Linked DNA regions of Homo sapiens: all the other regions are linked to region 3. The links come from fine-mapping of genetic effects on gene expression. A gene starts in region 3. Each other region holds a variant in brackets. All regions are shown on one strand. Distances are from middle to middle.

What was found.
Region 1: its variant is fine-mapped to the expression of RERE in whole blood (INTERVAL, PIP above 0.99).
Region 2: its variant is fine-mapped to the expression of RERE in whole blood (TOPMed, PIP above 0.99).
Region 4: its variant is fine-mapped to the expression of RERE in whole blood (INTERVAL, PIP 0.96).

The regions. Positions count from the first base shown.
Region 1 is chr1:8,434,137-8,442,395 of GRCh38, reverse strand. The region is part of intron 11 of RERE (arginine-glutamic acid dipeptide repeats); the gene reads left to right. RERE-AS1 (RERE antisense RNA 1) reads right to left here. Exons shown (of 4, transcript NR_125999.1): 4 at 7,380-7,763. Among named protein-coding and RNA genes, the nearest start is that of RERE-AS1, 14 kb to the right of the region's middle. The variant A/CA (reference allele first, on the strand shown) is at 4,130.
Region 2 is chr1:8,419,720-8,427,978 of GRCh38, reverse strand. It overlaps RERE (arginine-glutamic acid dipeptide repeats), which reads left to right. Exons shown (of 23, transcript NM_001042681.2): 12 at 5,172-5,252. RERE-AS1 (RERE antisense RNA 1) reads right to left here and starts at 3,334. Exons shown (of 4, transcript NR_125999.1): 1 at 3,278-3,334. RefSeq lists an enhancer at 1-216 and silencers at 3,745-3,884, 4,195-4,534. The variant A/GGA (reference allele first, on the strand shown) is at 4,410.
Region 3 is chr1:8,815,130-8,820,129 of GRCh38, reverse strand. It overlaps RERE (arginine-glutamic acid dipeptide repeats), which reads left to right and starts at 2,490. Exons shown (of 23, transcript NM_001042681.2): 1 at 2,490-2,970. RefSeq lists silencers at 1,953-2,182, 2,283-2,582, 2,833-2,892 and an enhancer at 2,246-2,540.
Region 4 is chr1:8,345,108-8,353,366 of GRCh38, reverse strand. RERE (arginine-glutamic acid dipeptide repeats) reads left to right here. Exons shown (of 23, transcript NM_001042681.2): 23 at 1-963. Among named protein-coding and RNA genes, the nearest start is that of SLC45A1, 31 kb to the right of the region's middle. RefSeq lists an enhancer at 2,684-3,504. The variant G/T (reference allele first, on the strand shown) is at 3,755.

The DNA of each region.
Region 1 (8,259 bases), 380 kb after region 3:
TTTTTTTTTAAGATGGAGTCTTGCTCTGTCACTTGGGCTGGACTGCAGTGGCGGCACCATCTTGGTCCACTGTGCAACGTCTGCTTCCCAGGTTCCAGCAATTCTGCTTCAGCCTCCTGAGTAGCTGGGATTACAGGCGTGCGCCACTATGCCTGGCTAATTTTTGTATGTTTAGTAGAGACAGGATTTCGCCATGGTGGCCAGGCTGGTCTTGAACTCCTGACCTCAGGTAATCTGCCCACCTAAGCCTCCCAAAGTGATGGGATTACAGGTGTGAGCCACCATGCCCGACAAGTTCATTTTTTAAAAGCAGTCCAATGTTGCATCTTATCCTTTTCCCCCTTTAATTTTTATTTCCATTCTACTTCCCCAGGGACTTTATACTAAGATGATACATTTTATGTTTGAAAGTCCAGTGTCCGATTGACCTTTAGTACTTCCCTGCAACAAAAAGTGTGTGTATTGAAATCGGGCATATGGTTATTTCCTTTAATAATAAAGCTCTTAAGTATAGAAGAAATGTTTTTTCAAATTATAATTATTAGAGCACAGTTGATGAAAACAACGAAATAATGTAAATGTTGATATAATTTTCATTTTTGCTTAACATTTATTGGAAATAAATTGTATGGTTTTTTTAAACACGTAAGTGCCCAGAAACCTTGTTTATGTGAGTAAGTAGATGGGAATGATAGTTTTGTTACAGTGTCACTCAGTTATTTGAATTCTTTCCATAATAATGCCAAAAGTATAATTTGTCGTCAGATATGACTTTCCGCAATCTATCAGATGACACTTCCACTAGGACCTCCTTGTGTTTTGTTGAAAGCAGAGAATCAGAAAATGTCTGACTTGTGGAGTCTTTCTCATCCTGACCTCAGAGCTAGGCACTGTGTCAGCACCAGTGTCAATGTTTTAAATTGTCCCCTTGTTCAGTGCCCCTGGGGCAGTGCTGCCTGGTAGCCTTCCAGATGGGAGCGGGGGAGAGGAGGCTGCCTTTGTGAAGTGAGAGGGGGGCAGTGGTGGGGATAGAAGAAGAGAGGCTGCATCCCCTCACAGGAGCGTGTGCCTTCTCAGGCTGATGGATTGTTGGAAAGAGAACATAGGAAAAAAATGTCTTTTGTGTCCATACATCCCATTTTGCGGACTATGGTCTTACACATCTTATATGCCAGGCCCACTTCTGGGCACTGGGAGAGTCAAGGAAACCCACGCCCCCATAGGAGCTGGGCTAGTGGTGTGACGAGGGCTAGCTTAGGAGCTTGGGGCAGGAAACCGGGCTGCATATTGCACTGGAAATTGAATGATGAAAAACTTGCTGTCCTTGCCCTCCAAGGGTTTATCATCTGAGGTCACATAATAAAGCAAAACAGCCCCCCCACCCCCCCGAAAAACAAAAAACCTGCATGAGCTAAAGAAAACCCTCTGCTAGCTCTTGTTATTTAGTGTGTTCATAGAGCAGTTATATTACTCTGGCATACTTTCTATTTTTTTTTTTTGAGATGGAGTCTCCCTCTGTCACCGAGGCTGGAGTGCAGTGGCATGGTCTTGGTTCACTGCAACTTCCGCCTCCTGGGTTCAAGCGATTCTCCTGCCTCAGCCTCCCCAAGTAGGTGGGACTACAGGCATGTACCACCATGCCCAGCTAATTTTTTTTTTTTTTTGTATTTTTAGTAGAGACGAGGTTTCACCATGTTGGCCAGGCTAGTCTCAAACTCGACGTTAGGTGATCCGCCAGCCTCGGCCTCCCAAAGTGCTGGGATTACAGACAGGAGCCACCGTGCCCAGCCTTTTTTTTTTTTTTTTTAGGTGGAGTCTCGCTCTGTCGCCAGGCTGGAGTTCAGTGGCATGATCTCGGCTTACTGCGACCTCTGACTCCCTGGTTCAAGTGATTCTCCTGCCTCAGCCTCCTGAGTAGCTGGGATTACAGGCATGCGCCACCACGCCCAGCTAATTGTTTGTATTTTTAGTAGAGACAGGGTTTCACCATATTGGCCAGGATGGTCTCGATCTCCTAACCTCATGTCCGCCTGCCTCGGCCTCCCAAAGTGCTAGGATTACAGGCATGAGCCGTGCCTGGCCATAAACCATTTTTAGAAGGAGTCAGGCTTTACCAGACTGCCAAAGGGTCCATGGCACAGAAGAGATAAAGAACTGTGCACTCAGTGCTGGCCCCTTCCACATACTACAAATAGTTTCCAGAGTCCAAGATGACAGTTTCAATACAGTGGTTTCATGGAAGGATGCTGCATAGAGTTGGTGTTGGGCACAATGTTACTGGCTTGGTACATGCACCATAGATATTTTGTTTTTGTTTGTTTGAGAGGGAGTTTCACTCTTGTTGCCCAGGCTGGAGTGTAATGGCGCGATCTCAGCTCACTGCAACCTCTGCCTCCCGGGTTGAAGCAATTCTCCTGCCTCAGCCTCCCCAGTAGCTGGGATTACAGGCGTTTGCCACCATGCCCAGCTAATTTTTTGTATTTTTAGTGTAGACGGGGTTTCACTGTGTTGGCCAGGCTGGTCTCAAACTTTTGACCTCAGGTGATCCACCCACCTCGGCCTCCCAAAGTGCTGGGATTACAGGCGTGAGCCACTGTGCCCAGCTCACACCATAGGTATTTTAAATGTTGCATTAGACTCTCAGACCTGTTATTGTCCTGCATTATCCTAAGGATGCTACTATTTCCTGTAATCCCATTTACAGTCAAGTATCAGGGAATCCACCTGGAACCGCCAGGGGGTGTGGTTCCCAAGGGTCATTGACCTTTCTTGCTCCTCCTTTCCATCTGAGGGAGAAAACTTTCATTGCCTCCAGATTGTGTTTCAAAACAATGGAGAATGTTCTTGGTTTTATTACTAAGTAGTCTTGACCTCTAGCTTCGTAGTTATTGATTGGTTTGTTTCTTTAACATCTTGACATTCATTATTTTCTTCCTGGTGTTTTCTTAGGCAGTTGATTCCTCCACACACCAGCTCTCCTGACTTGAAGCTACGGAGATGCATTTAGATCAGGTTTCTTGCATGCTGCTGGCTTTATCTCATTTACAGTATCGCATTTCTGTTGCCATACACTGTAGGATCTGGGCCTCCCCACAGCTTTAGAACAATTAGTAATTGAGCAGGAAGTGTGTTTTTATTACAGTGGCCTTTTGATTTTGATTTTACAATCATGTAGTGTTTAGCAGAGAGCAGAGGTGGGCAAGTGGCTCTCTCAAACACATTTTTGACAGAGAGAAGTCTGTTGTTTCAGCCACTTGGCTATCTGTCAGCGGTTCTCAGACTTCCCCCTTGTGTGGGTTGCCTGGCAACCTGGGGCTGGAGCAATCAAACCGTGGCCAGCGCTTCTCCAGCCCAGACTGGGAGACGATTTACTGGTGGAACTGTAAGTACAGTAAACCCAAGCCTCAGAAATGGACCTTTTTTCTTTTTTAAACCAAGAGTTTATAGAAACCATATCAAGGCAAAAAGAGAGAGAGAGGGAGAATATCAATTAGAGAGTTTTGTTGTAAACATTTTAAATAATAAAATTAGGGCCTGTAATGAGCTTATCATCTATCCAGATATGTATAAGTTAATATTTTTACTTAGTTGGATTATTACCTTTTTTTTTCTTTAACTGTTTTACTGGAACATTCAACATTTTAAAAGTTAGTACTTTTAAACGCTACATTTGAGTACTTGTGATGCTGTCTTTCCACGAAAACCTCAGGCGCAGAGAGTGTTCATGGCTAGCCGGAAGTAAACTGTGAGGCCTTGCTAGAATCAGGCCTTTGAATCAGAGCCCAGCTCTCCTGATGCCTGTGTTCCTGGTTTACTGTAGTGAGCACAAAATGCTGATTGCTCTTTTCCCTATTTTTCAAAATTAGCTGAAAAATCCAGAGACCCATCTATATGGGAAATCCCTATACCTTCTGTTCCGTTTTGCTGTGAACCTGAAATTGCTCTAACAAATAAAGTTTATGAAAACATTTTGAAAATGCAAAGATTCTGCCTTACTATATGCTGTTGTAACAGATGTTTTAGTAGGTCTCCCTCTTCGTATGTATATACATCTTTTTAACTGAAAATTATCCTATATTGATTTTTTTCCTACAGGAGTGAGATCTGGCTGGGCACAGTGGCTCATGCC[A/CA]TAATCCCAACTCTTTGGGAGGCTGAGGCAGCAGGATTGCTTGAAATCAAGAGTTCAAGACCAAGCCTGGGCAACATAGTGAGAACCCCGTCTCTACAAAAAAATATTTTTAAAATTAGCTGGGCATGGTAACTGACACATACCTGTAGTCTGACCTACTTGGGAGGCCGAGCCAGGAGGATCATTTGAGCCCGGAAGCTCCACGTTACAGTGAACTGTGATCATACCACTGTAGCCTAGGTGGCAGAGCAAGACCCTGTCTCTAAAAATAATAATAAATAATAATAAAAGTGAAATCTAACAGCACTTGTTGAGGTTTCTCCTTCATAGCATCTCAAATATCACAAACGAGGATGAAAAGGACTCTATTTCGGGGGACATACTGCATGGGGGTGGGGGGAGCAGAAGTCTCAGCCTGGGTTAGCAGTAATCTGAGCATTTCTTTTTGTAAAATTTTAGAGAAATACTTTGGAACTCAAACTCCCCTCTGCATGCAGCCCATTGTATCCAGCTGTGTATGTAAATGAGCTATTAGTATGTTTGTATTCCTTATAAATATACAGATCTAATCTGTTTGTGTGTGTAATTTACACACAGCTGTGTTCATGCTCCCGTATTACCAATATTGTCAGCAAGAGTGAGGTATCATGGGAGCGCTATTGTTCCAAACAAAAGCCAGCAGCGTAGCCTTGTGGTGGGGCCCATTACCAGCCCCTGATCTTGGGACCCTCCCTTGGGGGACTCTCTTGAAAGTCACAGCCATTCTGCATGGGGATAGCCATCCTGCATGGGGTAGGCGGGAGACCAGAGTGCCTGTAATAGAAAAAAAAAACAATGATCACCTGTTAGACAGGGATCTGCATTATGACTGAGGTTTGGCTTTTGTCATTGAAATGCTTCCTCCACCCCCACCCTGGACTACATTTCCTAAAGGGGTCATTGATTTTCCTTTCTTCTTTGAGATCATTCTTTAAATGAACCGAGTCAAATGAGGAACCCAGTCCCATGTTGTATTGTCAAGAAGGGGAAACAAAATCCAGGAGCCCCTCCTGTATCAGGAGCTGACGGAAGGCCCTGGTGCTGGTCGAGGTCTTCAGTTTCCCTTGTTTGGGAAGTGGGGCAGATCTTAAGAACTTTGGCATTTGGTCGAATTCTTCTAGAAGACAAGTTTTATGTAATTTGAAATAACGGCCCTATGTGGTTTTATTTTAGGAATTTATGATATCGTTGCCCATGATTCTAACAGTATAGTTATTTTGCCTCCCTAATAGAAAACTTGGAGTGCTTTGGATGTTTCAGTATTTTACAAAAAAAGAAGTTAGGATTATTCTAGACCTGTGCTTTCCAATGTGGTAACCACTGGTCTCTTGTGGCTGTTGAGCATCTGCAATGTGCTGGCCCAAGTGTAGATGCACGGTCAGTGTAAAATACACACTGATTTCAAAGACTGAGCAGGAAGAAAAAGAATGTAAAATATTTCATTACTAACTTTTATATTGATTACATGTTGAAATGATAATATTTTTGATCTTTTTAGTTAAATAAAACATTTAAATTAATTTTACCTGTTTCTTTTTAAAGTATGGTTACTAGAAGAGTAAAACTTACATTTTTGGCTTATATTTCTATCGGGCAACCACTGGTCTAGATTCCTTTAATTACAGTTTTTGCAAAATCCTCTCACGGAGGATTTCTACTTTTTTGTTCCCTTGTAACTTCTAGACAATCCACATTTCTTTTTTTAGCTTATTTCTCTTTCCTCCTGTGTTGAGATCTACTTTGCCAAGGAAAGGTGAACATTTTAATGACATAACTTAGGAGCCACTTTACAGGGGCATTTATGTAGCGACTGTAGGGTGATATTGTAGGGAGAGAAGGAGCCTCCCATGCCCATTTGGATTCTGTTATGAGTGTTGGGTTATTTTATTTATTTTTTATTTATTTATTTGAGATTGAGTCTCGCTCTGTCGCCCAGGTTGGAGTGCAGTGGCACAATCTCAGCTCATTGCAACCTCTGTCTCCCGGGTTCAAGCAATTCTCCTGCCTCAGCCTCCCAAGGAGCTGAGATCACAGGCACACGCCACCACGCCTGGCTAATTTTTGTATTTTTAGTAGAGTTGGGGTTTCACCATGTTGACCAGGCTGGTCTCAAACTCCTGACCTCGTGATCTGCCTGCCTCAGCCTCCCAAAGTGCTGGGATTACAGGCATGAGCCAGTGCACCTGGCCGTGTTGGGTTATTTTTAATTTGGGCGTAGCTGTGTGGCCATAATTGGCAAGAGGCATTTGGCTGGCACAATCTCTACATCTGTTAATGCTGCTGCTTAACTAGCCAGTTCTCATTTGACTTGAAAGTGCATTGATGCATGCTTTCTGATATTCACCCAGTGGCAGTACTTTTTGTTGGGCCTGCAATAATGAAAGGACTTCAGTGTACTCAGTGTAATTATCTAGACCCAGAGGGGCACTGACAGAGATGTATATATAGGATAGCTCAATGGGCTGTGCTAGTGGGTGCAGTTGCTGTTTAAACCACAACATGAGGTCATTTTCCCATTGGGCACATGGTCTTTGAATGAAAAATGGAGTAACTTTTATTTGATATTTGAGACCTCCTGGGAAGGGTTTTTGGCATGCAGGTGTGTTGACAAAGGAAATCACTGGCTCTACTCTGGATGCTGAGCTGGCATCACGGAGGGGATGGTGTAGTTCCTCTAGTGGGTTTGAACGAAGAACATCTAATGGTTTTGTCAGTAGTAGTTAGAGAGTTAGAAACTTAACAGTGCAGTGAATATATATTAAGAGACGTTGAGTCAAACTGGAGAACAGGTGATGAGAGGTCAAATAGCCTTGGAGGAACACTAAGCCCAATCATCTCCAGATACATTCTTGTACTGAACCAGTGGTTGTCAAGCACCTGCTATATGTTGTCAAGTGCTGTTCTAGGTGCTGGGGATATAATAGTGAACAAAACAAAGGCCCTTTCCTCATATATTCAGTAACGTAGCCTATATCGTGTTATCTAATCATATCACATATGGTGATAAGAGCTAGGCCTTAAAATGAAGGCAGAGTAAGGTTATAGAGAGGCATGCAAATTGGGGAAGCATCATTGGAAGATTGCTTATTTGTTTGCTTAAATTAATAGTGACTAACAGGTTAAAGTTTTTAGTGGTTTTAGTAATGAATCTTGTATTAGTTGCCTATCGCTATGTAACACGTTACCCCTGATAATAAAAATTAGCCCAATGTAAAGCAATGATGATCATTTATTATCTTTCACAGTTTCTGTGGGACCAGAATTTAGGAATGGCTCCACCGTGCAGGTCTGGCTTAGGCTTTCACGAGGTTGCAGTCAAGTGATAGGAGGTATTGGAATCATCTTGAAGGTTTCTTCACTTATGAGTCTGGGCTAGGAAGACTCAAATGGCTGGGGACTAGAATAGCTAGGGTTTCTGTAGCACCTCTCCATCCCTGATGGTCTCTCCAGCGTGGTGACTTTAGGCAAGCCGGACTGTTTAATCTGGCAGCTCAGGGCTTCAAAGACACGTGTCCAGAGAGGGAGAGCCCAGCAGAAGCTGTGTTGCTTTGTATGATGTAGTCTTAGAAGTCACCTGGTATCATTCTGTCACATTCTGTTGGTCAAGACAGTTACAAAGGTCTACCCAGGCTCAGGAGGAGAGAACAGAGAGACCCACCTGTCAATGAAGGAGTGTCATTATCACATTGTTAGAGCATGTGGGATGGAATCTGTATTGGAGTGGCCACCTCTAGAAAATATAGTTTGTCACAAATGTAAAGATTTTGTGGGTATGTGTGGTTTGATTTGTTGGTTTAATTTCAGTTAAATGATTTATGGTCCTCATCAGTAATATGAGGGTTTCAACCAGCGTAGTTCTCTAAAGCTTCTTTCTAGCTTTCTCATTCTCTGATTCCACCGATAGCGCAGGTGTGGCAGGGTGTGTTGAGCTGGCAGCTGCTCAGCTTCTGTAGACATTTCTGAGCATATCATCAGAAGAGTCAGCTGGGACATTGAGGGGCTGTTGGACTCTTGCTGGCCTCACACACTGAAAGACCTGGCGCTTCAGTCACCCTTTGTGTTATGTTTCTATAGCTAATCTTAACTGGGGG
Region 2 (8,259 bases), 390 kb after region 3:
CTTATAGGGCCTGTTGATTTATAAGTCAATAGTGTTAATTGTTAAAGTCTTAAAAACTTCGGGGTCTTCATTTGAAGAGCGATGAATTTATAGAGGGAAAGGAGACAGCCGCAACAGAAGTCTCTTTCACGTGTGACCCCTTCCAATCATTGACTACTGTGAGTGGTCGTCTTTGTTTCGATTTTCAGGGCTACTCTACATTTCTGGTAAACCACAAGCTAAAGGCTGGTCTCTGAGAAGCAGATGTTTTGCTGGTTTTGAGGCCTTGTGGCTTTCCATAGAGAAGTAACAGTACAGGCCACATGAAGCTTTTACTTCCTTTTTTTTTTTTTTTTTTTTTTAAAGTGGGGCCAAGGGTGCTTTTGCTCTTGATAGCATTATATTGACATACATTGACAGCTGTGGTAGGTCTGTGTTCACCACCAGATGTCAAATTCCTATTTCTGGAAGTAATTAGTTTGAGATACCTGTGAAACGTTCAAGTTGAGTGTTCCCAGTGGACTTGGACCATAGATTTAGTCTTAGAAATACCAGTGACAATCTCGAAAGATATTTAGAGCCAAGGGAACAGTGGAGATCATATGGGGAGAGGATATATATAGCAGAAAGCCCTAGGACAAAGCTTTGGGGAGACTCCAGCATTTAGAGGTTGAGTAGAGAATTAGGCCAAGTGGTATGAGCAAAACTAGGAGAGTTTGGCATCATGGAGCAAGAGGTCAGCTCTGTTAGGAGAGTTCAAAATGGACCTTCTGGCTTTCAACAGTCCATTTCCACTGTGACCACCCTAGCCCAGGCCCTCAGCATCTCATGGTTGGTTTCACTTGTCCGGGTGCGGTGACTCACACCTGTAATCTCAACACTTTGGGAGGTCAAAGCGGGAGGATTGCTTGAGGCCAGGAGTTTGAGACCAGCCTGGGCAATATAGTGAGACCTCATCGTTAATAAATAAATAATTTTTAAAGGAGACAAAAAATGTGGTGAGCATCAACTGCCTAGTGTTATATGGAGGCACTAGGTGTAAGATGTAATTATTTTAAGAGTTTATGGACTTTTTGGGTAAGCAGGCCTTATACAAATAAATAAACTAATGAGAGAGTAACTGGACATCTGGTTTCATTTGGGAGTAGGAGAGATTTTGAGGTGAACGTGGAGATGCCTTACCCAGATTCTGGAGTTGAGACAGAGGTCCCCCAGTGTGGGCCAGTTGGCATTACTGGACATCTGGCTGGAAAGGTGGGCAGGGCCAGGATCCTGGAGGGCCTTGAATTCAGGGCTAAGGAGTGTAAACACTGTCCTGCAGAGACCACCATGCTGTTCTTAGGTAGGGGCTAAGGGCCAGATAAAGTGGGACTCAGGATGAAATCTATAGTTGGGAAAAATTCCTTGGCAGAGGCTTTTAAATGGCTGGATGGGGGAGATGGTTAATAGCCTAGTTATTAGGAAAGAGAGATAAAGGTCTGGCCTGGGACTGCCACTAGCATGAGCAGGAAAGGAGGGCGTTGAAAGACACTTTTTTTTTTTTTTTTTTTGAGACAGAGTCTCTGTCGCCCAGGCTGGAGTGCAGTGGCGCAATTTCGGCTCACTGCAAGCTGCGCCTCCCGGGTTGACGCCATTCTCCTGCCTCAGCCTCCCCAGTAGCTGGGACTACAGGCGCCCACCACCATGCCCAGCTAATTTTTTGTATTTTTAGTAGAGACGGGGTTTCACTGTGTTAGCCAGGATGGTCTCGATCTCCTGGCCTTGTGGTCTGCCCGCCTCAGCCTCCCAAAGTGCTAGGATTACAGGCATGAGCCACCGCGCCCGGCTGAAAGACACTTCTTAGGAAGAATACTGAGGACTTTATGATTTGACATTGGACCCGAGAAGAGGAAAGTACAGACTCATAGAAAATGGTAACAGAAAATAGTTACCACTGTAGACGCCTGCCTGCATTTTACAGAGTGTGGCTCTGAGGATTTGAGGGGGCTTAAGTTTGAATTCTGGCTTTGTCTCTGAGGAGTTGATCTAGTTACCTATCTGTGCCTCAGCTTCCTTGTCTGTAAAATGGGGATAATAATTGTACTTCTTCTTAGGTTGTAAAGATTTCGAATTAATATATATGAGGCTCCTGGCATATAGTAGGTACTTAGTAACTATTGGTTGAATGGATGATGTTCAAAGGATTGCATCACAATAAATGGAAGAAACAGGATCTGAATTTGTTTGTCCAACTCTGCCACCTTACCCTGATGTTCCAGAGTCAGCCTTTCTCACATGCTGCCTTTATTGTGTAGGCCTCTTTTACTGGACCTGTTAGATGTCACTTGGTATCAAGCCCACGTTCCGATTGCATGGTCCTGGCGTTCCACAGCCTGGCTCACTCCAGATTGCCCGCCCCAAGTCTGTGTAGACTGTCCCCTGTAACCCACCTCCCATTCTCCACCTCTGACCTTCACGGAGGGCCCGGTCACCAAGCCACCTCCCACCCCTGCAATAGTTGCCCACCCCTTGTGATCTCGCTGATGTCACTGCCTTGGCGAAGGCATTCTGAACTACTACAGACCACTGCAGTCTAGCCTTCTTGGGTCCCTTGCTGCACTGATGAGCTGCACCTCACTTCTTTATGCTTGGCCAGATGACATCTCAGAATGTTCTGTAATGACTTCACACATACTTATCTTACGTGCAAAAATGAATCACAGTTCAGTAAAGGTCCATGGCAACCTTTATTATCTTCCTAGACCCCTCTCAGCTAGGTGCTCAGTAAATACCTGAATACTTGAAGAATGGATTAAGCGGCAGGAATTCTGATTACTGAGGTGGAGTGTGCCAGTAGTTGAGGTCCTCATCTCATACCTGAACTGTGTCAGCAGCCTCTTTAACTGGTCTGTCCCTAATCTACACTTAGGCCACACTGCCACTGGCACAGTCCTCATCCAGTCTTTTCATGGAAAGCTCCAGCTTCAGCCTTTCTGCCAGCCTACAATTAGGAACTCTTCCGTGCGGCCTGAAGGGCTCTCTGCAACCGGATCCTTGCCTGCCTCTTTCGTCTTATCTGCTGGCACTCCATTCTGCACACCCTGTCCTCCTTGCAGTTCCCAGAATGTTCCCTGTGCCTTTTCCTGGCTGACTTCTGCTGGAAGCCCTGCTGGAGCCCACCTGGCAGGCTCACACTCTTCCTTGTCACTTCCTCTAAGACATCAGCAAGCAGAGTAAGTTGCTTCCTCTTCCTAGCTTCACCCACCACCCTTTGTTCCTCTGCTGCTTTTCTTGCAGGCCCTAGGACTGGTTTGTTTACCTGTCTGCCTTCCTGGGCAGACTGCAGCTCCTTGAGGGCAGGGCCATCTTTCCGTGCCGTCTCTCCCGGTGATATGCTGTGTGCACACAGCGTAGGATGCCTGTTGATCATATAAACGATACTTTTGTCAAGTAACAAAGGTCACTCCTCACACTAGAGGAGAGCTTGCTGCTTTCTTGTGCCTTGAGAGATTTTCCCTTCGAACTGTATGAATTATATTGAAAATTGACAATGATGAGTCATATCTCAGCAAGGGTGAAATTCAAAAACGCAAAGCCTCCACTACTGGAGTAGGAGGTTGCAGACTGGTCTTAAAAGGCTAAGTCTGGCCCTTCACTGAATCCGCCTGGCGGGTCTCAAACACAGGGAGTGGGAGGGACCCTCTGCCCGGTGGGCAGGTGATTTATTGGCTGGGAAGCTTCCGCGGTGATTTAGTTGTGAAGCGGCGGCCGGGGAAGTGCAGGCTAATGCCTGGGCCGCCAGGGAGAGGCCGCCCACAATCGCGGGCCGGAAGGGACCGCGGGGGGCGTCGGGGCCAGCCCCCCGTTTCGCAGCTGAGGCGGGGTTGGGGCGGAGGGCGTGCGGCCGGGGCGCAGCCGACTTCGTCCATCCGGAACGTGGGCTGGAGACCCAGCAGCCTGGGAAGGGCCCCAGCCCTGTGGGCGCCCTCTCCCCACGCTTGCTGCGGTAGGGAGGAAGTTTCTGTGCTTTACCGCCTTGATGTTCTCCTGTCCGGAAGGAGGACACAGATTCCAGCGCCGGGTGCCCTGGAGGCTCCGGCCTCGGGGTGGGGGTCGGGCCGGGGGCGGGGCCGGGGCCGGGGCGCGGGGCCCCGGCTGGCGGACAGGAGGGCGGCGGCAATCCAGGCCGCCTTTTGCAGCCGCCCGCGGCCGCGCCGGGCTCTGCGCGCCGCGCTCCTGCCTCCTCCCCCGTCAGCGGCGGCCCCAGCCCCGCGCCCCCCGGGCCCCGCGCCGCGCGGCCCCGCCGCGGTCACACGCCGAGCCACCCGCGGCCGCCTCCGCCCTGCGCTTTGTGGAGCCGGAGCCCAGTGACAGGCGACGGCCTCTTGCCGCCCCGGACCCCGGGCGCTTACCTGTGGCTGCTGGGGTCGGCCGCCCGGGACCAGGCTGGG[A/GGA]GCCCCGAGGTGGGGGCTCGGAGCCAGGAGCTGCCCCCACCGGGGCGGGGAGGGGTGCTCGGGAGGCATGGGACAAAGTGAAAGTCTCCGGGCTGGGGTTAGGGACGAGTCTGCTGCGAAAATGGATGGGGGCGGCGAGTGGCGTCGGGAGGGCGGAAGGGGTGCTGGTTATTCTCTGGTGTCTCGGAGTGGCTTTTAATGACGGACGGTGGGGCAGGCCCGCTGGCTTTCGTGTTCCCGGTGGGCTTCTGTGATACTGGTGCCTTCCGGTGCCTCCTGGCAAATTCTTTGGATTAAGGAAAGCGGCCTTTTAACCCCCTAGGGTTCCCTTCTGGAGAAGAGTCACCGGGTTTGGTTCTGTTTCCCCTTTCTGCTCGACACTTCTGGGAAGCTTGGTTCTCAGGTGGGAAAGCAGTTGTGTTTTATTAAAACATGGAGCATATTTATACCTTCGTGCACCAGAATGTGTGCCTGGTGGAAGAGGGGGACAGATTGCTTCTTAGCCTCAGACGCAGGACGTCCTTCTCTTAAACGCGCTGCCCTGCGTGGTGGGTGGGATTGGGGTTCTGATGAAGGTAGCTGGGGCCTGCCCTGGCCAGTGGGTCCCAGCTGAGCTGCTGACATACTCTCCGAGCCTCGGCAGTATTCCCTAGCCGAGACTTTTTTTGTGGTTGTTATTCTGCTGATTGTAGATATCTTTGCTTTGCTGACATCCTGTTTTGTTTTTGGTTTTTACATCCCATTTGTTTCTTTTTATCACAGAAACGCTTCGTTAAGGGACTCAGGCAGTACGGGAAGAACTTCTTCAGAATTAGAAAGGAGCTGCTTCCCAATAAGGAAACAGTGAGTACAATTGGACTTTATGTAACTTGATTTTTTCCTCTTTGCTCCTGCTGCCTCTCCACATTTGATCTTATGAAATGGTTTCCTTTAACCCTGCGCTGTGCTCAGACTCGGGCTGGCCTCCAGAATTCTCTCCGTTTTACTCCCTTGACTTTTAATTTGAGTTCATAATTTTTAGATAGTAAAGTGACAGATTATGCTTATCCGCCTGGAGAACATAGACTTCTGTTGTAACTCTGAGAACAGAAAGGTCTTTGGGAACAGAGGGTTAGTTGTGGGGGAAGGATTGTTGGAGAGTTAACATCAAATTTTAAACATAGTGGCTGGAATAGGAAATAGCATTTTATCACTAGTTTGAATTTGGTAATTGGCAGAAATCATCAACCAAACCAGAGGTTTGTGGCTTATTATACTTTGAGTTCTGGGGGATTTTTTCCATTTTTCAATGTTGCTCTGTTTTGAAGAGGAGTTTTAACTCTTTAATATTCTATCCCTGAGAGTTTGCACTTTCCACTGGACAGATGTACAAGGGGATCTTATAAATTGCTTAAATGGAGCTTTACAAAAAACTACTTAGTATTTCACAAAGCTGGGGGTCAGAGCTGACAAATGTGCCCGATAAACGTGAGGTAGAAGGATTTGCTGAGGAAAATACAGAGTGAAATTATATGAAGAGAATGCGGGGAAGGGATTCATTCTCATTTCCCTGTGGTTGCCTCCCTCCTCATCTCCTTCCCTGGTGGTGTAGAGGCAGATGGGGAGAGAGTCTTCCCTCTGGCTAGGCCACGGGATAGGGCAGATGGGATGGAGTTGGAGCAGCCACTCCACTGTCTGAAGGCGAAGGGAGGACTCATTAACCAGAAACACTCTTCAGGACTTTGGGAGGAGTGATCCATGTTTAATCTGCCTAGACATTGAGCTGCTTTTTTAGGGAGTGGAGGTGGGAGATGGATGCAAGAATATCTACTATAAAAGTATGCGGATAATTTGGGTTTTTTGGCTTAATTTTTTAATTGGATGTTGTTTACTGATTTCCTCTTGTTTAATTCTGTCTTTTTAAAAATGAGCTGTTTTTCTGGACACTTACTGTATAGTACCTCAAGGACAGTGATAACTCATGGGGAAGAAGGGTTTTGTGATTTCAAGTATAGTCTTGTATATATAAATGGATGATTTGCATCAGTCAATGACAATTAAATTTAAGTATTACGCATCTCATATGCTAGGATGGATCATATTGAGAATGGTAAAAAACAGAGAGAGAGAAACCTGTTTATGAACATTAAACTAAGATGTATTATGATGCCAATCTATATAATCAACTTATTTCTTACCCTTCCCAGAACAGGGTAGAGTTATTTAATATGGAATATTGAGATACATATTTTAAGTTTTCTGGGGATTTCAGTGACTTGAAGTTTGATATGATTAAAAATTAAAATGCCTTTGCCCGAGTGTAGGAAGTTTGGTTTGGCTGAGTAAAAAAGAGATCAGTGAGTAGATTTCTCCTGATCGCTCAGATTGTAGCCTCTCAAGTTCTCTGTCTCTGCTCTGCTAAAAGTTGCAAACCATGAAGAATTTGATACAGAACTATCTTGACAATTATTTTATCTTTCAGTTTTAAAAAATAAATTCATAATTGGAAGATTAAGCATTAAATCTAAATTCTACCATCTGGCATTTGGAAATGCTCGGTAATTTTACTTAGTGTTTTATCTCCGTAGTGGAAGCAGATGTGAGTAACCTTTAACCTAGTTAAGTTCTTCTACTATGTTTTTCTTTTTGCTCTTGATTTTCCCTTCTTATTGATGATGTGTGACTCCGTAAATAAATAGCCTTTTTTCTCCTTCAGAGGCATTCTCAGTACACCAACCTTTTGAGCTAGTTCTCTGGTTGTCTTTTCCACTAGCCTCTTTGCTGAGACCTTTCCCCATCACTCCTCCGCCTTCACAGTTTCCCACGCTGTAGCTCTTCTCCCTTCTCTAGCACCCAGCAGTTTTCCTATTTCCAAAGTCTTCATCAGTCACCATCATTGGAACTAATGAGAGAGTTGTTTGCAGCAATGGAGGATTTATTATGCCTGACATTTGCTAAATATTCATAGTGTCCTTGCTGTCTTTTGCATTGCACTGGAGGAGTTTGGTAGTAGGGTAAATCTGTAAGTATTATAATGAGCTGGGAGAGGCACTCATCTTGTGTTTTCTTATTTTCTCTAGTTATCAACATAGCCAAGCTAATCATTCACAGCCCACAGGGAGGGGAGGGCAGAGGTCATTTTTTACTTTTTGCTGCAGAAGATGAGATTTGCATGTACCAGTGTTGTTGATTCAGAACTTGCTGGGTAGAATTCTTATAGTCATGCCCCTTTTGATAGCAAATCCCTCTAATATAGATACTTTTCACATTCTCTCTCTCTTTCTCTCTCTCTCTTTTTTAATGAGACAAGATCTAACTCTGTTGCCCTGGCTGGTCTCAAACTCCTGGGCTCAAGTGATCCTCCCCTGAATAGCTGGGATTACAGGTGCACGCTACCATGCCTGGCTTACATTTTCTTCTGTCTACCAGAATTATTAACTCATTTCTTTGTTATTCGCAAGTGACTTGGAACTTGAGAAGGGTGTCAGCATCCAAAAGAACATGCCTGATTGGGCATTGGTGCAAGGGTCAGCAGACCTGTGTTCTATTCTTGGCCTTACTGGTAACTATAGTACTTGATGATCTCTTTTTAATTGTGCAGTCTGCCTTGAGCTGTTCATTGGAAAGCTCAGGTCAAATCTTGACAACACTGGGAAGTTATTTTCTGTAAAATGGTGTTTCTCTGCATGAGAATTGTGTAGGTGCTGTGGTCGTTATAAAATGCCTGTACGTCGTTACTTGCTGCAGTGCCTGAGAACGAAGTGATGATTCTTGCCTTCTCTGCTACTTACTTGCTCTGGAACCTTAGGCAGATTATTCATCCCCTCTGTCCTTTAATTTCTGCGTTTGTAAAATGGGGTGATAATTCCTA
Region 3 (5,000 bases):
TTACTGCATTATCAGCTTCTCAGATCCTTGGAAGGAGGTCCAGTACTCTCCGGCTTTATGGCTGGACCACAATTCTTTCGTGGGACTGTTACAGTTAAATGGGTTTAGTTTGCTAATTTTGTGGTCTGATACCATATATTATGCTTTGTAACTATGTGGCATTTCTGGACTTCTAAATTTACATTTTTATGGATAAATGAAAGTGACGGCCAATCCCTAATACCATAGTAAATGTTATTTCCTAACGTGGAGAGCCTCTCTCCTCCCTGCTGGATGGCAGTGCATTGTCCATTTGTCTACCACAGAGCTGAATCTTTATTAGAAATAATGCTCCTGTAAGTTTCGAGACCAGCCTGGGCAACATAGTGAACCTCCATCTCTACTAAAATTACAAAAGTTAGTTGGGTGTGGCGGCACACACCTGTAATTTCAGCTACTCAGGAGGCTGAGGCAGGAGAATCGCTTCAACCGAGGAGGTGGAGGTTGCAGTGAGCTGAGATCGTGCCACTGCACTCCAGCCTGGGCAACAGAGCGAGACTCTGTCTCAAAAAAAAAAAAAAGAAAAAAAAGAAAGAATGCTCCTGTAGATAGAGATTTTGATGGAAAGTGAAGCCATCTAACTGATATACTTTATCCCTCATCATTTCCAAACAGGAAGTCAGATAGTCCTATCCATATCTAGAATGTTGGAAGCAGTTTATTGAATTTATTAGGTTTTAAAATTCAGTTCTCACATTATCAGATATATAAAGAGATATTAACTAGTTTCCCCATTTCATAACTCCAGCAAAGAGGATTTTTCTTGCTGAAAGTTACTCAGAAATGTGATGGCAAGGATCTATGGCTTTTTTTTTTTTTTTTAAGATCTCTTGGGTCATGGTCCAATAGTATCTGTTAGTCCAAATTATTCTTTAAAGAATAATTGAATGTGGGCCGGGTGCGGTGGCTCACGCCTGTAATTCCAGCACTTTGGGAGGCTGAGGCGGGCGGATCACCTGAGGTCAGGAGTTCGAGACCAGCCTGACCAACATGGAGAAACCCCATCTCTACTAAAAATACAAAATTAGCTGGGTGTGGTGGCGCATGCCTGTAATCTCAGCTACTCGGGAAGCTGAGGCAGGAGAATCGCTTGAACTGAGGAGGCGGAGGTGGCGGTGAGCCGAGATCGCGCCATTGCACTCCAGCCTGGGCAACAAGAGTGAAACTCCCTCTCAGAAAAAAAAAAAAAATGAATAATTCAATGTGGAAATTATAATCTGAATAGATTTTCCAAGGAGAAAATTATCACTTCTTTTGAAACAGATGAGTGAATTATTTTGTGCTACGTTTTCTACCCCTTATTTTATACGGACCTTAACTCCTTCGGGAAGAGTGTATGGTATAAGGACACCAATAAGCATTTACAGAATATTAACAAACCAACAATAGGTTGATGATTCACCCTGGATTCGTGCCAGGCTCTGTGAAAGAACTCAATAAACATGATGTGCATTTCAAAAACTGCTAATCATAATTGAAATTTCCAAACCCCTCAATCCCATAAATTATATGAACTAGAATATGATCATTTGGCCTGCCCCTACTCCCTTTACAGCATGATAGACCCTGTGATTATCAGGCTTTCGGGAAGTGGGACACAATACTTCATTCTTCAAAGAAAAAGAGGTGATGTTTGGTCTTTTCCTCTTTTTAGATTTTTTTTCACACGTACCTTATAGAGTTGTACACTGCTCTTTCTAAAATCCCTTCTGTACCTGTACAGTCTCTCCTTTATGCCTTCATGACACTTTTTATTCTTTTCAAATAAGCAGTGCGACTTATCACTTTTATTTTTCTTTCTGTAATTCATCTTTTGTCATGTACACTATTTGAAAAATATTACAAGCCGCTCATCAGAATTTCGAAAGAGTCCATATGAGAATGGTTTACACCCACTCTGTAGCCCGCAGCAACATGGATCCGCGTCCTAATGACTGAAAAGGCCAATTAAGACCCGGGTAACAGCAAGATCAACCGGACTTCCCCCCACCCCACCCGGGACCTGCCCGCGCCGCCAGCCCGGCCCAGCCCGGGGGGCGCGGGGGGCGGTACTGGAGCGCGGCGGGCGGCGGAGGAGGGCCGGCCTCGCACTCTCACAAAGACGCGCCCGCGGCGGGAGCCCAGCCCACCGCCTCTGGCCGCCGCCTGCAGCGCGAGCCCTCGAGCCCCGGGCCGCGGCGTTGTCAAGGCTCGGCCTCTCTCCGCCTTCTTCTCTGCTCATTTTATTAAAAAGATTAAAAAAAAAAAAAAAAAAAAAAAAAAAAGGAAAAAGAGATCCCGCCTCCTCCGCCTCCCATTGGCCGGGCCCCCGGCCGCGTCACACCGCGCTGTACCAATGGAGGGGCGCGATACTGCGAGGTGGGCCGGGCCCGAGCGGGGAGTGGGCGGCGGGTCGGTGCAGCAGCTCCGCCGCGGCTCCGCCACCATCGCGGAGGTGCCGCTGTTCCCACAGACGCTCGCGAGCAACCCTCCGCGCTCCGGAGCCTCCTCAGCCTCCCGCACACCCCGAGACGCTCGCCCCGCTGGGCCTCGGTCCCCGCCTCCTCCCCCGTCCTTTTCCCCTCTCTCGCTCCCCACATTGTCTCTGCCTCATTTTCTCTCCTAGTTGAGGATTAAAAAAAAAAAAAAATCACCATCATCCTCAGGGAGCCCCCTCGCCCTCGGAAAACAAAACCAGACATGATCCTGGGCTCCTGCTTCTGAAAGATCTGCCCGACCGAGGAGGAGGGAGCCTAGGTTCAAGTCGCAGGAAAGGTCACGGCAGGGAAGCCCCCTCAGCCCCTCCGCGTCGCCTCCCCGCGGGCCGCCCCTCTCGGCCCTGCGCCCCGCGGCCCCGCAGCCTCCGCGCGGCCTCCCGCCCCATCCCCGCCACTTTCCCCGGAGCTGGGCCGCGAACACCTCACTATTGATGGTGTAGCGCTTTAGGGGAAGGTAAGTGTCCAACTTGCCCGCGCCGGGTCGTGTGCTTTCTTTTTTGGCCCCTCGTCCTGGTGGTCAGAGAGGGTCGGCCGTGAAAGCAGTCACTCGCCCGGGGGGAGGCAGGAAGAAAAGGCTGGGGTCGAAGCCGAAGTCGAGGGGAGTCGGGCGAGGGCAGGGCACTTCTTTGGTCCTGTCCGGGCCAGGTGACCGTTCCTGCGTGCCTTCTGACCCCTGCTCTCTCTTGGCCTCTTATTCATGCTCTTGTTCTACTTGTTTGAGGTTAAACTATTTCATGTGACTACATTATTGGCTGAAACTGGAAGGGAAGGAAGTCAAGGACTGAAACTGTAAATTTCTTGAATGTTTGTGGATTTCGGGGTGCTGGGGGGAGGACTTTATTATTAAAGTATCATTTTCTCATTGGGGGAAGATTTCCTCTTTGTGCTCCCAATCTCTAGTTCTCAGCTGTATGTGATTAGAAAATTATGAAACCCAAAGTCACTTGCAGCAGAATAGAATTCTTACTATCCTGTTTTAGTTCTGCTCTCTGAAGGAGGGTGGCTTCTATTTATTACTAATTTTTAAGATGATGGAAAGATTCGTAGTTTTACATACACGTGTGTATGTGTGTCTGCTAGGAGGGGGGAAAAGTGTTGCAGGCTTCCTTTGAAACTGGTTGCTTGAGAAGTTGTTGAAAGGAAAACAGAATGATTCATTGTTGAATTGTCATTTTCCTCTGTCTCTTTTCCAAGGTTTGCTTACAATTTTTCTGGATTACAGACTTCAAACATTGATTTAAGTAAAATGGGTCCTTGAGAAACTGGGTGCTTTAAATGTTTCAGTATCTGTTGCTTTTTTAAGGTACATTTAGAAAGTAGTTTTGTATGAATCGTGAAATAGCCTTCTTCACAGCGAATTTTTAAACGCAAAAAAAGATAACTAGTAAGAGGGTGAACTTGGTGAATTACAAAATAGACATTTTAATATAGCAGGAATTGATGCATCTAAGATTTGAAACAGTTTTCATAATTGCTTTCCATTTAAAGAGAGACCTTTTTGTCTAGTGTACACTGGTCTTTTTAGTCTCAGTCTGTTGGGGGAGGGGAGAGAAGCTGGATCTGTACAATAATAAAATCATCTTTGGGTTGATATTTTGTTCCATGGATTTGCTTGCTGAGTTAATACTACTGTAAATTATCAACCAGTTTTGATTTTGATGGCCTGGGATGGGTGGAAAGCTGGCTTCCAGCTCTCCCTGTTGTTGTTGAGGTCGAAGGGAAAAGAGGCAGAGGCAGACAGACACACATATACACACACACACACACACATACACACACACACAATACCAAGCTGAGGGCTCATTGTTCTTCCATACACACATTCATTCTCTCTCTCCCATATTTGGGACTAGGTTTGCACAGACAAACACAGCTCTTTTTGGGAGAGAAGAGAGAAGATGGGGGAAGGGAGGGTGCTTTTCTGTTACAGCTTTCTTCCACCCATCTCATGCCTGGCCGTTTTTGCAACCTTGTGAGGCAGAAGAGTGCATTGGAAACTAAAGGACACTCAAAAACATGTTCAGAGACTTCTCTTCTCTCTGCCTCCCTTTATTCCTTTTGCAGCCGTGGTTTCTGCTGCTCTTTCTTTTTTGTATATGTAAAGATAAAATCCCTCTTTATATGTTGTGGCCTTACGTTCAGCTCTCATTGCTTTTGTATTTCTCATTGACCCTGATTTTGTTGGGGACAGTGATTTGTTCACTTGAGTCTTAGTAGTGAATGTGAGCAGAGTCTTTCTAGATAGAAATAGATTTTATTGATTAATATTATAAAGGTTGTATTGAGGTTAATATTTAGCAAGATGATGTTTGCATGTTTTTAGTGGTGTGATGGTTTGATGGTCAGGTTTGCTGGCAATTGAGCTGTCAATGTTGTTTTTGTAAATAAGGGTTATAAGAAAAGATCTGGTTTTCTGTTTAGGGGGCTCCTTTGAATACTGGACAGGGAATAGGCTAGTCCACCTGGGATAAACCCAGCTGTGGC
Region 4 (8,259 bases), 470 kb after region 3:
CTAGAAACCAGCAGCTACTGGCTCAAATTCAGGTTCTGGCGTCAAATAGCGACATTTCCAGTTTCTCTTAAAAACCGTGTTTGGTTTCAGTTGGGATAGGCTTGTTTTGTCTGTTGAAAATGTTTCTAGTTTTTTTTCTTTCATTTTTCTCTCATTCCATTTCTGCCTTAACTTTAGTTTGTTCACAGGGAGGCAAAGCTGACATGAACCTTTTGTCGTGGGACTTCAGGCCACATTGGCTTGAAGGCATTCGTTTCCTTCTGGGGTGGGGACAGGCCCTCATGGCAGGCTTGTTCCCGTGGCTCTGAGCGAGGCCTCTTCCTGCTGGGCTCCCAGACTCCTGCATCCAGGCCCCCACCTTCTCGGCTTCTGGTTTTTCTTTCTTTTTGGTAGAACACAACATCTACCATTCAGTTAAACCTTCTTTATCTCCTCCTTTGGCATCCATTTTTCCAAAGAAGAGTCGAGTCCTCTGAGGTCTGTGCTTGAAAGCCGTCCGAAGGCATTCTTGTTAGCTTTGCTTTTCTCCCCATATCCCAAGGCGAAGCGCTGAGATTCTTCCATCTAAAAAACCCTCGACCCGAAACCCTCACCAGATAAACTACAGTTTGTTTAGGAGGCCCTGACCTTCATGGTGTCTTTGAAGCCCAACCACTCGGTTTCCTTCGGATTTTCCTCCCTTTGTTCGGGGTTTGGTTTGGCTCCTCTGTGTGTGTCCGTATCTTGTTCGGTGTCCTCGAGGTTGAGCTTCACTCCACTGCGGCAGAGGCAGCGTGCACACTCGGATTTGCTACGTTTCTATATATCTTGAAGCTAAATGTATATATGAGTAGTTTGCCATGAGATAACACAGTGTAAACAGTAGACACCCAGAAATCGTGACTTCTGTGTTCTCTCCATTTGAGTATTTTGTAATTTTTTTGAAATATTTGTGGACATAAATAAAACCAAGCTACACTACAACCCTTGGGTGTCTCCCGTGCACTGTCTCATTCCTGGAGAGTGGGCGGGGATCCTGGCTGTTACCCCAGGTGGGGAAGGGACAGAGGGAGAGTCGGCTGTTCCCTGCTGCTCGGGACCCTGTTTGCATCCCAGAGTGGCTTCCAGAAACATCCTCTGTCTGGGAAGAGGCTTTCCCTGGTGAGGGTGCTGTCTTTCTTTGGAGGCTCCCCAAGCAGCGGGATGGGCCCTAAGCAGGCACTGGCATTGGGACTAAGAGCATCTTCCCCCACCCCTTGCCATTCACCCCACACCTCTAATCCGTGGGCGTTACCAGCATGTATGGGCATGTGGCACCCTGCCTGCTCAGGAGACACATCGGAACCACCCCATCCTAGCGGCCTCCTGCCTGGCCCCCATCTGCCTCCCCGTGGCCTACCAGTGCCCCCACACCCCACCCCCAGCCACCCAGCTCTAGAGCTGCACTCCAGGTGGAGGATGCATCCCAGGCCTAAGGGGCTCTAACCCTCCAAAGGGGCTGCAGGCAGCCTGCAGGGTGTGGACATGGCCACAGGGGGGCAGGCGTTGGAATTGCGCTGTGGCTTCAGAACCTGTTGAGGGCATTTTCCTGGAGCCTCAGGATTGTCCCCGGAAATGTGTGTCCACCCTTTGTCATCTGGGATAGGGCCATCAGTTTCTAGGTGTTTGCAGACATGGGGCAAGAGCAGCCCAGAAAGCTGACTGTTGGTAAACTGTCCTCAAACCAGGCAGGGTCCGCCACGTGGTAAAGACTTGGGGAGCAGCAGGCACCAGGCACTGCCTCGCTCAGGACCTGAGAAAGCTTCGCCATGCAAAGACCCGAGTGGCGCACACGATGACGGCCCTTGAGGCGAACAGCAGGGGTCCTGCTCAGCAGCGTGGCTGACCAGGGCACAGGGATGGGCCCGCAGGCTGGCCACAGGAGCCCCAGGTGGCTCTCAGTCCAGGTCTTGGGTGAGAGGATGGCACTGGGGTGGCTGGGAGAGGCTGGAATCCAGGCGCTGTCTTGGTGGGTCTCCGGGACTGTGCCCCTTAGGAAGCTGCAGGGTTTAACAGGTACAGGTCTGTGAAGTGTAGATTTCAGTGTGGTTAAATGGTTGGATCCAAGCGTCTTGAGGAGATAGTAGGTTCATGCTACAACAAGGCCTCATCAGAGCTGGGCAGCTTCTCAGGCATGAACAGCTGTGGCCATTGTCACCACTCTGCCACGCACCCATGTGAGGAAGAGGGCCGGGAATGCTAACCAGACATCTGCTGGGTGGACGGGGCGGAGGGAAATGGTGCTGTCCTCCAGCAGCACCCCAAAGCCAGGCCCTCGCCTCTTGCTGCCCCAACGACGTCCCACGTGCCCTCTGCCCCTTTGTTCCTGGAAACGCATCCTCAGCTTGAGCATGGTGGCTCAGCAGCCCCGCTGGTTCCACTGCAGGTGGGCTAGGAAGATGGCACTTTGCAGGGCATGGTGTAAGTCCCAGGGCCTCAGCACAGTGTAGGTGTGCAGCTGGGTGTGTGGCTGCATTGTTGATAATTGTCCATGGTAAGTCTAGGGAGGGAGAGACCTCACTTAAGCCTCACCTGGGTAAGTCAAGATCACGCATCTGAAGGGCAAGGATGCACCGTGGAGAGATCAGCGGTGGCCTCCCACACACACACGAGATTGCAAGCTTCCAGGCCCTCAAAAATCAGCACTGGTGAGCTATACAATTGTGGATGTGATCAGCTGATGAGTGGTGGCGGGGGGCGGGGGGGGGGGGGGTCAGGGCCAGAGCCCTTCTGTGTGGAAGCTGAGATGTGGGGAGCCGTCATCTGAGCTAAGAGCCCTCACTAGCCCCAGCCTGACCACATGGTGAGACCCAGGGCAGTGTGACTGGGCACCAGCACAGACTTCAGTGACCACCATCAGCCTCACCTGACCAGCCCAGAAGGCTTGGGTACATATCTGAACTCAGAGCTTTGAAATCAGAACCAGCTACCCAGATACTGGGGATGAAGCTGCCAGGCCCCAAAACCAGTGGAAAAGTCTGTCCTGCACTGGACCCCTGGGGCCCTTCCTGCTGCCCAATGGAGACCGAGGAACAGCGGGGTCCTTGGCCTCCCTACCTCCTCCTAAGGAGGATCTGCCAGATGAGCCAGCCAAGGGATGCAGCCGCACATTTGGCCATCCGGTTGGACTGATACGGGCTGCAGGATAAAGCAAGCCCTTTCTGGTTCATAAGGTTCCCGGACCTCCCGTTAGAAGGCGGGGCCTGGCTGGAGCTGGCATCCATCGTGGATCCCCAGGGGGCCAGGAACAGCCTCCTGCTCAGCCCCTGATGAGCTCCAGCTGCAGATGCCTCACCCGGTCCTCTCGGAGGCGGCATTGTCGGCCTTTGACAGTCTCGGTATCTGAGGTCCTTTACCTGAATCCCCACTGGGTTCCTAGCTGCCCTGGAATCCTTGGCAACTCAAGTTCTGGGACCTGGTTCTCTGCTTCTCCAACTCAAGGTGGCTTCTCTAGTGGCTGTCTTTGTCAAGAGTGGTCATTGTTCCCTTTTGACACCTCAGGGACCCAGGCTGCAGAAGTCCCCCTGTATCTCCCACAGCCCAGTTCTGTGTATGCACAGGCACCCGGGCCCCTTCTTAATGAACCAAGTTTGTGGAAGGCACTTGCTCTGCAGATATTGGAGGGATGGATGGATGGGTGGATGGACCCTGCTGGATGGATGGATGGATGGATGGATGGATGGACGGACGGACGGATGGACGGACGGACGGGCCCTGCAGGGCAAGGTTCCTTGCT[G/T]CCAGTCCAGATGTGCTATTGGAAAGTGGGTGTGAAGGACCAGATAGAAGGACCTTTTGGGTTGACTTCGGAAGGCTTCCCAGGGACGCCTCTGCTGGGCACCTGGAGACCCTCCCTTCACATTCTCTTGACTGTGCCTGCCGTGTGGGCCCTGCAGTCCCTCTGACTCCAACCCTGGTTGACACCATCGTAGAAGTGGGGAATGGGGCTTGGGGGATCAGCTTCTGATGAACCCCTAGGGTTTGAGTATCCATTGGAGCAAATTAAAAACAGGCTTTTAGAGCACCTTTTAGTTGTCCCAGAGAGGATTCCTGAGGCCATTTCTTGCCTATCCCACTGTTTTCTGGGCATGTGACCACCCAGTCCCCCCCACCCCCCAATCCCCTTGGACCCTGCTGCTGGGCAGCCGTCGAACAGAGTCCATCCCCATCCTGGCCACCAGGTGGCAGTCGTTACAAGGCCCAGGTGCTTGCCCTGGGCCCGCGGCTGCCACAAGACCTGCAGCTCTGGTGTAGGGGCAAGTCAAGGCCCCCGGCGATGGTGGGGAAGGCTGGAGGGTTTGACAGCGAGCATTGTGTAAGAGATCCGACGTTTCCTCGAGGCAGGCGGCCGGACAGGCGGGTCAGAGATCAGGCAACTGGACAGGCCTCAGCAGAGCGGGTTGTGGAGATGGCTGGGAAGAGGGGGCTGAGTGTGGGCAGGTGAGGCTGATGGCTGTGGGCAGGCAGGGCGGGCACGGCTGTGAGAATGAGGGCAAAGGCCTTGTCTAGAGAACAGGAGGTTTCTTCTGTTCTCCGCTGCATCCCCCAAGGCTTGGGAGGTACCCGGTAGGAACTCAATGTTCCTTGTGTGGAAGAGAATCCCAGGATGGCATCAGCAGCGGATGACTTCCAAGAATCATGACTCCCATAACTAACCGCGCCCCCACTCCCCGACAAGCCCCCTGAGCAGCTGCTGGGGGTCCTTGTGTGCCACAAAAGTACCCACCCCCAGTTCCAGACACCTGCTCCTTCCCTCTACGGATGCCCTCCACCCGCTCCCCGCTGAGGATGATACGTCACGCCCCACGCACCCGAGTGGATTCTGCAGACACACTCTGAGCAGGTGCAGGGAGGGCCAGGACCTCCCGACTGCGGGGGGGCCAGGCAATTGTCAGTTCTTGCATATTCCAGGGAAATCATCCCTGTTCCCCCAGAAACCTGTAGCCCAGCCTGGTGAGTGTAGGAATGCCACCTTACCGGGTCCCGGTTCCCGGTTCTCCAGGGAATGCCACCTTACCCTGTCCCGGTTCCCCAGGGAATGGTCCAGGGTTAGCCCAACAGCCTAGGGAGGAAGAAACACAAAACCCAGGGAGGCGATGACCTCTAGGGCAATTCCTTTGATGACGTTCAGTTTCCATGCTAAGTGCTGTGGGCAGTGCTCGATGGCTGTTAGGTGTGTTTCGTTTCTGAGTGGCATCAAGGAATGGGAGCCACTTTCCAAGTTTGCTGACAGGAAAGTCAGGAGTGGCTTCAGATCTTGGTGATGTGGTTTTTGTTTTGAGTGGCCTGAGAAGCATGAGTCTCACAGAGCGCTGATCGATAAAGCAAGAGGCCTTCTCCCGCTGTCCCCTCGCCTCTGAATAGGATGAGAAGCTCCCTCCAAGCTGAGCTCCCTGGGGAGCGAGCCCTGGGGAGCGAGAAGGCCTCCCTGCAGCAGCACAGTGTTCAGGAGACAGACGGGCAGGAAGCTGCCCGCCCTCAGGGGCTTGGCCGGCTCACAGCGCTCCTAAGGCACTCAGCGGCATGAGGCTGGACTCAGACTCCCCGGGCTCAAACTCCACCCTGTTGTGACGTGGGCCAGGTACTGGGTGTGCTTGCCTCAGGATCCAGATCTGTCAAATGGGGGAATGATACCTCTTTCCCAGCAAGGTCGGAGAATGGATTAAGATTCATTCACACGTGGCCTCGTGTGTAGTGAGGACTTCACAAACAGCAAGCAGCGGTGACTACCCTCATCATCACAGCTTGATTCTTTTTTTTTTTTTTTTTTTGAGACAGAGTCTCGCTCTGTCACCCAGGCTGGAGTGCAGTGGTGCAATCTCAGCCCACTGCAACCTCTGCCGCCCAGGTTCAAGCGATTCTCCTGCCTCAGCCTCCCAAGTAGCTGGGACTACAGGCGCCCACCACCATGCCCAGCTAATTTTTTGTATTTTTAGTAGAGACAGGGTTTCACCGTGTTAGCCAGGATGGTCTCAATCTCCTGGCCTCGTGATCCACCCGCCTCGGCCTCCCAAAGTGCTGGGATTACAGGCGTGAGCCACTGCGCCCGGCCCACAGCTTGATTTTTAAGTAGAGAGAAATCCTCTCTGAGATGTGAAAGTCAAACGAATGTGGCTCTCAGTGAGTCCTAGGCCTCGTGGTTTGGAGCTGGTGGCTGCTCCCACTGCCATCTGCTAGGAATAGACCTGGAAGTCAAGGGCAGCTTTTCGGACCCGGCCAGAGGGCAGTACTCCCACAGTTCGGGAGGCAGGGCAGGTTCTCAGAAAAGAGAGGCTGACAGGGACGATTCCCACGTGTAGAAGCAATCTGTGTTTTGTTAGAAAGTTCTAGGAAGAGGGCCTAAGATTTGACAAGCCAAGAGTAAGCGGGAAGCCCCTTATTCTTCATTTTGACCAGTTCTGGGCAAAGACAGCCCAGACCAGAGGACAGCCACCCAACACCACATTTTCTAGGAAGTCTGAAGCTCTTCCAAACAACATAAATGTGGGGAGGGTAAGTCTGCAGTTCCAGGAAAAGCATGGGACTAACAGGGCCTGAGTCTACAGAGGCTCAAAGGAGCGGTGTGACTTTGAAAAGCCACTAAACCTCTCTGTGCTTCAGCTACATGTGTATCAGGGACCGTGAGACCCGCTTCACTGAGCTCATGACCATGAAGGGTAAAGCAGCATCACATGAAAGCACAGGGAAAGAATCACTGGCTCCAAGCAGGGTGGACTGCACGGAGGAAGTGGCATTTCAGACAGGTCTACATGGATGAATCAGATATTGATGGGCAGAGAAGAGGTGGACTTGGCCTGCAGGAAGATCCTAAACACAGGAACCGATTGTGGCCCACAAAGGTTCTGTGGCTGTAGTACAGGGGGCTGGCAACGTGGCGGGTGGCTGGCTCGGGAAGATGGGCTGGGCTCTGTTTGGTGGAAGGAATTTCTACCTGATTCCTTAGGGTCTGGGGAGCCAGGGTAGGTGTCATGGAAGACTAGAAGAGGGGATGGGCTCAGGCCCGTGTTTACAGCCCCCCAGCTTCAGGGTGGAAGATGGATGTGAGGGTAGACAGGAGGCCAGGAGTCCAGCAGGGGCGCAGAGAGGAGTGGTGGGGCTCCAGGAGGCAGCAGGCAGTGACACTGAGGAAGGCTATGGCCCATGGGGGAGGCCGGGGCTCAGGTGGGAAAATCATAACCAAGGTGGGGAGGCCGTGGTTGGGAGGGAGGCTGTGGCCCAGGTGGGGAGGTAGCCTTTCTGACTGGCCCTAAGTGGTCACAGCAAGATGATAAGACACTGTCATGAACGCCAGACTCCCCAAGGCTGGCAACAGGCCCCAGAACCCCTGTTGTTTGTTGTGGATTTGTGGTCAGGGATGTCTTATATGTCCCCAGAACACAGGGCCCATGCAGTGAGGGAACTGGGGGCTGCACAATCCCAGACCAGGCCCAGCTTGGCGACAACAGGGACCCGGCCGTGACCCCTCATGGCCATTAATCACCATGCGTGGAGGAGCCCTCCCAGGCCTCTGAGAAGGGGCCTTGGTGAGCTTCCAGCGTCAGGTGACGAAGATGGTCAGAGGCCAGATGGCGAGGGACTGCCACACTCACGAGAGCTTTGCCAGATCCACAAAGGGGCACTGGGAGGCAGTGGGCACAGCCCGGGCAGACCCAGGCCCAGCGACGCCTGCACGCAGCAGGCACATGGTGTCCATCTGTGGAATGAACCCTTGGCGGATGGAGGGGGAAGAATGACCCGAACCTCGCCCTCCAGCCCCTAGTCCCTGCCTGTGGAGTCAAAAGGCAGGATGGGCGCTGGCCAGCCACATCAGCTCCAAACTCTTTGAGATTTCAACTTTTGGGGCATTTTACAATCTGAGCATCTTGGTGCCTATGCTCCCTCGAGCCTGTCAAGCAAGTGCTCACTTCAGAGATCACTCCCTGGCTTCATCAGGACACTGCTCAAACGGCACCTCACTACTGAGGCCACCCAGACACGCTGCTGTCGCCCTGTCCTCCTTCCCTGCGCTTGCGCTGCACGGAACCTCAGTGAGCCATGTGTCTCCCTTCCTCTCACATCAGTTCCAGCAGGGCAGAGTGGACACTTACAGCTGGATTCCCAGGCCAACCACTGTCTGCCACACCCAGGCACTCGCTGGATATCTGGAGGGTGGATGAGTGGATAAGAGGATGGGTGGAAGGATGGATGGATGGAGAAATGGATATTTGGATGGGTAGATGGGTGGACATGTGGATGGATGGATAT